Linked DNA regions of Homo sapiens: region 2 is linked to region 1. The links come from fine-mapping of genetic effects on gene expression. A gene starts in region 1. The other region holds a variant in brackets. All regions are shown on one strand. Distances are between the middles of the regions.

Region 1 (4,000 bases):
CTCCAACCTCCGCCTCCCAGGTTCAAGCGATTCTCCTGCCTCAGCATCCTGAGTAACTGGGATTACAGGCACCTGCCACCATGCCCAGGTAATTTTTCTATTTTTAGTAGAGACGGGGGTTTCACCATGTTGGCCAGGCTGGTCTCGAACTCCTGACCTCAGGTGATCCGCCTGCCTCGGCCTCCCAAAATGCTCCCAAAATGCCCAGTGGCTCACACCTGTAATCCCATTAACTCGATAAATATTTCTAGAGCACCTACTATGTGCCAAGCACCCTTCTAGGTGTTTGTTTGCTAAATCTAGCAACCCTATGTTCCCACTAAAAGAGAATGTGAGGCTGGTGGAAATGAGGGCTTAGGAGACACAACAGCTGTAGGCGTGGTTCCAGTTACTACAAAAGTGACTAAATAACAGCTACAGTAAATCCGACCCTGAATGTAACGGTGACATGAGTATAATAGTGAAAGTGACTAACTGGGCACAAGGGTATGAGGACAACAGTGTACCCTGAAGGGGCCTGTTAAATACTGGCTTGACTGTGTGGCAGCAAAAGTGGCTGCATGACAATGACAGTGAAAACAACAGAAAGGGCAACAGCTGGGCAAACAAAGTGCTATTTTGAACAGAACCGTTTGAAGTTTATGGTCAATGACGGTAGCTGCATGTCAGACAGTGACAGTAAATATGATCGACCGGGAGACAGCAACAATGCAAGTGACAGTTCTGCCCAGTAGATTGAATTTGTGATGTAAAACGGTGATGGGGTGAGTCAGTCAGCCAGAGACAGCTCTCAGAACGACTGAATATTGACATTGCAGATGGAAAAGGTATAACCACAGAGGAAGCTGGACATTGCACTAAGATGGCTGGATTTGGGCACGTAACTGTCAGGGACAGAAAAAGTGGCTGCATGTCAGTGACAGGGTGACTGTGTTCAGTGGGCCAGCGCGGAGGTGACTCAGTTTGTTACTGCTGGATCTGATTTAAATGTTTGTGTAAGGAAGGGTGGCAAGGGGACGCTTCAACAGGGAACGCATAGTGTGTGAGAAGGAAAATGAGCAAAAGAAAAGCTAGGACTAAATCCCAAAGCCCCTAAATCCCAAAATTGGGAGGTGCGAGAGGCAGGATCAGGATGCCTCCAGGATGCCTTCAGCCCACTGCGCCCCACCAGCGCCAAGCCTGTCCCACAAAGAGTGCGGGCTGGGGACGCGGCTCAGGTCGCCTCTCCGCCTCGCACGTGAATGTGTTGTTTTGGAAAAACGAAGCCTTTTGTGTTCACTTCCTTGCCCTCCTTTGAAACAAAATCCTAATCCTAGAGCTGCCGGAGCGAGACTGCGGAGCTCCATTAGAACTTTCCTTAGGGCCGGGCATGGTGGGAGGCCGAGGCAGGTGGATCATCTGGGCTCAGGAGTTCGGGACCAGCCTGGCCAACATGGTGACATCCTGTCTCTACTAAAAATAGAAGAGAAAAAAAAAATTAGCAGGGCGTGGTGGCGCGCGCCTGTAATCCCAGCTACTCGGGAGGCTGAGGCAGGAGAATCGCTTGAACCTGGAAGGCGGAGGCTGCAGTGGGGCGAGATCGCGCCGCTACACTCCAGCCTGGGAAACAAGAGCGAATCTCCCATCTCAAAAAAAAAAAAAAGAAAAAAACTTTACTTAGGAAGTGTGGGGAGGGAAGGAGGGAGTGGCCAAGGTCAGAGGTCAGAGAAGAGCCTAGCAACCAGCCGGCCCCCGCCGTCCTAGCATAGGTGGAGAGCGAGCGCGTGACGCAGGCCCCGCCCCCAGCACGTGACCGCGGCGCGTGGGGCAGGTCGGGCCGCCCCCTCCCCTCTGATACCCATTGCGCGCCGGCCTCAAGATGGCCGCCTTCTGGCGTCTCCGGCGCTGTTGAATGGCGAAAGCTTTATTGTTCCCTTCGGGCAGGAGTGTTCGTGTCCTCTATGGCGCTGTCAATAAAGAACGGCAGTTTGAATCGGTGCTGAACAGGTAACCATAGAAACGGGGCTGGGACTCCGCGTGGAGACCCTTCCTGCAGCGGGGGCCCGGGTGCGCCCTAAATGAGGGGTGTATACAGACCCTTCCGCGTGGCGAACTCCGCGGGACTCGGCCGAATCACGGCCGCCTCACCTACACCCCGGACGTGCCCCCTCCAGGGGCGGTCCGCACCCCTGGCGCCGGCTCTGCTGTAGACTGCGGAGGGGAGAGACCGCGGGGACCCACTCAGGGCGCCAGGCCCGACCTGACACCGCCTGGGGCTCGCTGTCGCCCCGCACCTCCCTCTCGGCCCGTCCGGAGGCCTCTTGTCGCTGTCTCACTCCCCCTCCCTTCAGGTCCCTTCGCCGGGCGTCAGCGGACTATGGCCTTGGGCCTAATCCATGCCCCCCTTCTCTCTTCCCCTCTCGGTCTTTGTTTACAGTTGCAAATGGTTAGGGGGAAGAATATTTCATGTAATTTGCGAAAGTTCTATGAAATCAAGTCCATAAATGAAGTTTTATTGGAACACGGCCCTGTTCATTGTTGATGTATTGTCTATGGCTGCTTTCCTGCCAAGAGGGCAGAGCTGAGTAGTTGCGCAGCCGTTGCTTGGCTTTGATCGGCTGGCTCACAAAGCCAGAAATATTTCTGTCTGGTCCCTTACAGCAAAAGTTTACTGACCCCTGCCCTAAACACAAGGAGATTGGATCAGTGTTGTCATTCAGCTATTCCTCTCGTCGGTTCTTCTGGAGTGGGAAAAGAGTTAAAACTGCGCGATGCACCGAGAGCACTTTAGTTGACAGAACACTCTGGCTTCCCTTCTGGTCTTACTGACTATTCAGAGTTTCTCCTGCTTTGAATAGCGTTGGTACCATGCAGCCAGTGCTGCAATGAACCAGGTGCTTTATTTATATTCATACAAGTGTTGTTCTACTTTATGACGACGCTTTATAAGTAAGTATGGTATTTCCATTTTACAAACGAGGAAGAAATTTGTTCTGAGTGGTTAATATATGTATAGGTGTACTAGGTTATAGGGCTGCCAAATTGAGCCTGTCCCTGGGAGCCCCCTGCCTGATGGCACCGGTCAAACTGCTTTGGATTTTATTCTTTCAAGTCTTTTCTACCTGGAATTGTTTGTTCTTCCCTGGAATTGTACCCAGATCTTTGTATGGTTAATGGAGATTTAATTACAATCTCAGTGAAATTTTTTTCTACTTAGCTAAATCATCAAACTTCTGCCCCTCCTTTCTAATATAAACACTTTTCTTCTATGTCAGTAGTCCCCAAACTTAGCTATTCATTAGTGGTTTAACAAATGGTTTCAGAACACCCCATGCATGTACGCATGCATTCATTAATCATTTAGTGTTTGTTGAGCACTTACTGTGTACCAGAGACGTTTCAAATTCCTGGAAATACAGTGGTGAACAAGACAAATATGATTTCTGCCCTTCCATGGAATTTAAATTCTATGTGGGGCTTGGACAAGTGGTATACAGGTAGACAAAGATAATTTCAAATACAGCTGTAATAGCATCATCATAATAAAATTATTAGTTGCTATTTACTGAGTGATTATTTTGTGCCAGGTACTGTGCTAAGTGCTTTATTTATATGGACTATCACTTAATCCTCACACCAATACTATGACATAAGTAGTATTAATATTACCATTTTACGCATAGAGGAAACAAACTCACGTCGGAGAGATGTTCGAGGTTACATAGCTAAGGCATTCAGCTGAGAGCTGAAGCTAATCTGATCACACTGAACACCCTGTATTGTTCCATCTGTTTATTGTCTTTCCTACTAGCTTAGGAGGTCCTTAAGGGCAGGGACCACACCTTACTGTTGTTATCCTCAGCTGCTAGCCAGTACCCACAACCTGGTGTTTGCAGGTAAATACCAAGTAAACAAATCTAGGTCATTCATTGAACAAATTTTTATTTTATTTTATTTTATTTATTTTTTTGAGACAGAGTCTCGCTGTGTTGCCCAGGCTGGAGTGCAGTGGCACAATCTC
Region 2 (4,536 bases), 32 kb after region 1:
AATATAATTCCAGTCACTTGTTTCTTACTAATAAGAATGTTTAAAAAGATCTAATGTATGTCCAGGTAAGTCTTTTGGTTTACTGTAATCCGTAAGACTTATGTCTTGTTTTACCAAAAAAAAAAAAAAAAAAAAAAAAAAAATCACATTACATTGGTGTAATTTGTTTCTTAGAAAAACCTCATCAGTGCCTGTTTATGGTCTTTTGTTATTTGCAAATTGAATTCTTGTTCAGATTTTTCTCAAATATTAATTTAAATATTTATTTAAATATTAAAACTAGAAAAAAATGTTTTTCTAGTTTTAAATCTTATGGAATTTTCCCCTCCTCTTTCCATAAAACACCAAGAGATAAAAATTCCAGTCGCCTACTAGAGCTACTTCTATTAGATAAAAGCCACTTACCTCCTAGGACTGTTCTTCATTTGTTTAAAAATATATGTGCATTTTTATAATATAGATTAAAACAGACTGTATTCAAAAAGTAGGGGTAGACATTCTTAAAGATTTTCTTTGAGCAAGCTGAAAACAATCATATGAATTCATGAATGCCCAACAATATTAGGTACATGGTATAGAAGGGGCTTGGGGTAGTTAGAACTGAAACATTTATATTTATTTCAGCAAATCTTTATTTTAATTAATAAACTATTTTTTTAGAGCAGTTTGAGGTACATGCAAAATTAAGCGGAAATTACAGAGGGTTTGCAGATCCCTCCCCACTCCCATTCTCCACACATGCACAACCTGTCCCACCATCCATGTCTCACACCATATTGGTACATTTCTTATAATTGATGAACCTACATTGACACATAATTCTTACCCGGAGTCCATAGTTTACATCAGGGTTCACTGTTGGTGTTGTGCATTCTGTGGGTTTTGACAAATGTATAATGACTTATATTTGCCATTGTAGATTCATGAAGAATAATTTCACTGCCCTAAAAATCCTCTGTGCTTTGCTTATTCATCCCTCCCTCTCCTCTAACCCCTGGCGATCACTGGTCTTTTTTACTATCTATATATTTACCTTTTCCAGAACGTCATATATTTGGAATTATAAAGTATGTAGCATTTTCAGATTGACTTCTTTCACTTAGAAATATGCATTTAAGGCCGGGTGCGGTGGCTCACGCCTGTAATCTGTAATCCCAGCACTTTGGGAGGCCGAGGCAGGTGGATCACGAGGTCAGGAGATCGAGACCATCCTGGCTAACACAGTGAAACCCGGTCTCTACTAAAAATACAAAAAAATTAGCCAGGCGTGGTGGCGGGCGCCTGTAGTCCTAGCTACTCGGGAGGCTGAGGCAGGAGAATGGTGTGAACCCGGGAGGCAGAGCTTGCAGTGAGCCGAGATCACGCCACTGCACTCCAGCCCGGGCGACAGAGCAGGACTCCGTCTCAAAAAAAAAAAAAAAGAAATATGCATTTAAGTTTCCTCCCTGTCTTTTCATGGCTTTATGTCTCATATCTTTTTAGCACTTTTTAGTCCATTGTCTGGATGTACCACAGTTTATTCATTATATCTACTTCTTGGTTGCTTCCAAATTTTGGCAATTATGAATAAAGCTGCTTTATAAGTATCATGTGTAGGCTTTTGTGTGGCCATAAGTCTTCAACCCCTTTGGTTAATTACCAAGGAATGTGATTAC[T/C]AGATCATGTGGCAAGAGTATGTTTGGTTTTGTAAGAAACTGTTAATCTGTAGAATGTCTGTACTATTTTGCATTCCCACCGGCATTGAATGAAAGTTCCTGTTTCTCTACATCCTCGTCAGCATTTAGTATTCCCTGTGTTTTGGATTTTGGTCATTCTGATAGGTGTGTGATGGTATCTTGTTTTAATTTGCAATTCTCTAAAGACATACCATGTACAACATCTTTTCATTTGCTTATTTGTCATCTGCATATCTTCTTTGATGAGGTGTCTGTTCAGGTCTTCTGCTATTTTTTAATTGGGTTGTTTTCTTATTGTTGAGTTTTGAGAGTTCTTTGTGTATTTTGGATAATAGTCTTTTATCAGGTGTGTTTTTTGCAAATATTTTCTCCCAGTCTGTGGCTTGTCTTTTCATTCTTTTGACATTGTCTTTCATGGAGCAAAATTTATTTCTGTCATGGATTGTGCCTTTGGTGTTGTACCTAAAAAGACTGCCATAGCCAAAGTCAACTAAGTTTTCTCCTATGTTAACTTCTAGGAATTATAATTTTGTATTTTACATATAGGTCTCTGATGTATTTTAAGTTAATTTTTGTGAAGGGTGTAAGGTCTATGTCTAGATTCATTTTTTCGTATGTGAATGTCCAGTTGGTTCCAGCATCACTTGTTGAAAAGATACTCTTTGCTTCATTTTAGTGCCTTTGCTCCTTTGTCAAAGATGAATTGACTATATTTGTGTGGGTCTGTTTCTGGGCTTTCTGTTCTGTTCCACTGGTCTACTTGTCTATTCTTTCACCAATACCACATTGTCTTCATTATTGTAGCTTTAAAATAGTAAATGTTGAAGTCATTATCAGTCCTCCAACTTCAGTCTTCTCCTTCAATATTGAGTTAGCTATTTTGGTCATGGGGAAGATCTGAGTCTCTGAAAATATTGAATATTTCTATCTAACAACATGGGATATCTCTCCATTTTTAAAGTTCTTTGATATCTTTCATCAGAGTTTTGTTGTTTTCTTCATATAGATCTTGTACATATTTTGTTAGATTTATACCTAAGTATTTCTCTTTTTGGGGTGCTAGTGTAAATGGTAAAGTTTTTAATTTCAAATTCTACCTTATTGCTGGTATATAGGAAAACAATTGGCTTTTGTATATTAACCTTATGTCTTACAACTTTGTTATAATCTCTTATTAGTTCCAGGAGGTTTTTTGTCATTTCTCTTTAATTTTCTGTAAAGACAATCATGTAGTCTGCAAACAAAGACAGTTTTAACTTCCTTCCCAATCAGTATACCTTCTATTTCCTTTTCTTGTCTTGTTGCATTAGCTAGGACTTCCAGTACAGTGTTTAAGATCAGTGGTGAACTGGGATATCCCAGCCTTGTTTATAATCCCAGCAGGAAGACTTTGAGTTTCTCACCATTATGAGTGATGCCAGCTGTAGGTTTTTTGTAGATGTTCTTTATGAAGTTGAGGCAGTTCCCCTCTATTTCTAGTTTGTTGGAGTTTTTATCATGAATGGGCATTGGATTTCTGCCAGATGCTTTTTCTGCAGCTTTCTGTTGACATGTTCACATGATTTTTCTTCTTTAGCCTGTTGATGCGATGGATCACATTAATTGATTTTGAATGTTGAACCAGCCTTGCATACCTGTGAGAAGTCCCATTTGGCTATGATGTATAATTCTCTTTAGGCATTGTTAGAGTCAAGTTGCTAATATTTTGTTGAGGATTTTTGCATCTATCTTAACGAGAGATACTGGTCTGTGGTTTTCTTTTCTTGTAATGTCTCTGTGTGGTTTTGGTAGAGGGTTAATGTTGGCCTCAAAGAATGAGTTGGGAAATATTCCCTCTGCTTCTATCTTCTGGAAGAGTTTGTAGAGAATTGGTATAATTTCTTTCTTAAATATTGGGTGGAACTCATTAGTGAACACATCTGGGGCTGTTGCTTCCACTTTGGGGAGGTTATTGTTGATTCACCTACTTTAATAGATATAGGCCTATTCAGATAGTCTATTGCTGCGTGTGTGAGTTTTGACAGATTGCATCGTTCAAGGAATTGGATCATTTTATTTAGGTTATATTTGTGGACATTCATAAATTACCTTATATTTTTAATGTATATGGGGTATACAGTGATACTGATATTAATAAATTGTATTGTCTATTTTTTTTTCTTTGTTACCATGGCCATCTTTGATTTTCTGACATTTGAAAACTATATGCCTAGGCTCAATGTCTTGAGTTTCCTGGATCTGTGATGTGGTGTCTGTCATTAATTTGGGGAAATTCTCAGTCATTATTGCATCAAATATTGCTGCTTTTCTCTCTTCCCCTTCTGGTGTCCCCATTTTGCATTAGTTATTTCTTTTCTAGTCTTCCCACTGTTAGATATTCTGTTCTGTTTTCTTCTTCTTTTTTTACTTTGCTTTTTCGTTTTGGATTGTTACGTCTTCAAGCTAGGAGATTCTTTCCTCAGTCGTGTCCAGTCTACTAATGAGCTCATCAAAGGCAGTCTTCATTTCTGTTATGGTGTTTTTTATCTCTAGCATTTCTTTTTGATTCTTTCTTAGAATTTCCATTTCTCTGCTTACATTATCCATCTATTCTTACATGTTTTGTACTTTTTCCATTAAAGCCCCTGGCTATTTAATCATAGTCTTAAAAAAAAAAAATCCTGGTGTGCTAATTCGGACATTCTTGCTATATCTGAGTCTGGTTTTGAAGTTTGCTCTGTCTCTCCAAACTGTTTTTGGGTTTTGTCTGTTTGTTTGTCTTTTAGTATGCCTTGTAATTTTTTGTTGAAAGGTGGACATGATGTACTGCATAAAAGGAACTGCTATAGCTAGGCCTTTAGTGATGTGGTAGTAGGGTGCA

Alleles and levels. Alleles are on the strand shown, and positions count from the first base shown. SD is a standard deviation of normalised expression in the study named.
With allele C in place of T in region 2, the expression in lymphoblastoid cells of the gene that starts at base 1,833 in region 1 is lower (small effect, 0.24 SD a copy in GTEx).

Evidence for each region. PIP is the estimated chance that this variant, and not a neighbour inherited with it, causes the effect. A credible set is the group of variants that fine-mapping cannot tell apart.
Region 2: its variant is the best candidate, but not a certain one, in a credible set for the expression of ZBTB40 in lymphoblastoid cells (GTEx, PIP 0.54).

Annotation. Positions count from the first base shown.
Region 1 is chr1:22,450,019-22,454,018 of GRCh38, forward strand. ZBTB40 (zinc finger and BTB domain containing 40) reads left to right here and starts at 1,833. Exons shown (of 18, transcript NM_014870.4): 1 at 1,833-1,986. RefSeq lists silencers at 1,078-1,372, 1,687-1,886, 2,227-2,316 and enhancers at 1,762-2,323, 2,037-2,116.
Region 2 is chr1:22,481,673-22,486,208 of GRCh38, forward strand. The region is part of intron 1 of ZBTB40 (zinc finger and BTB domain containing 40); the gene reads left to right. Among named protein-coding and RNA genes, the nearest start is that of ZBTB40, 32 kb to the left of the region's middle. The variant T/C (reference allele first, on the strand shown) is at 1,656.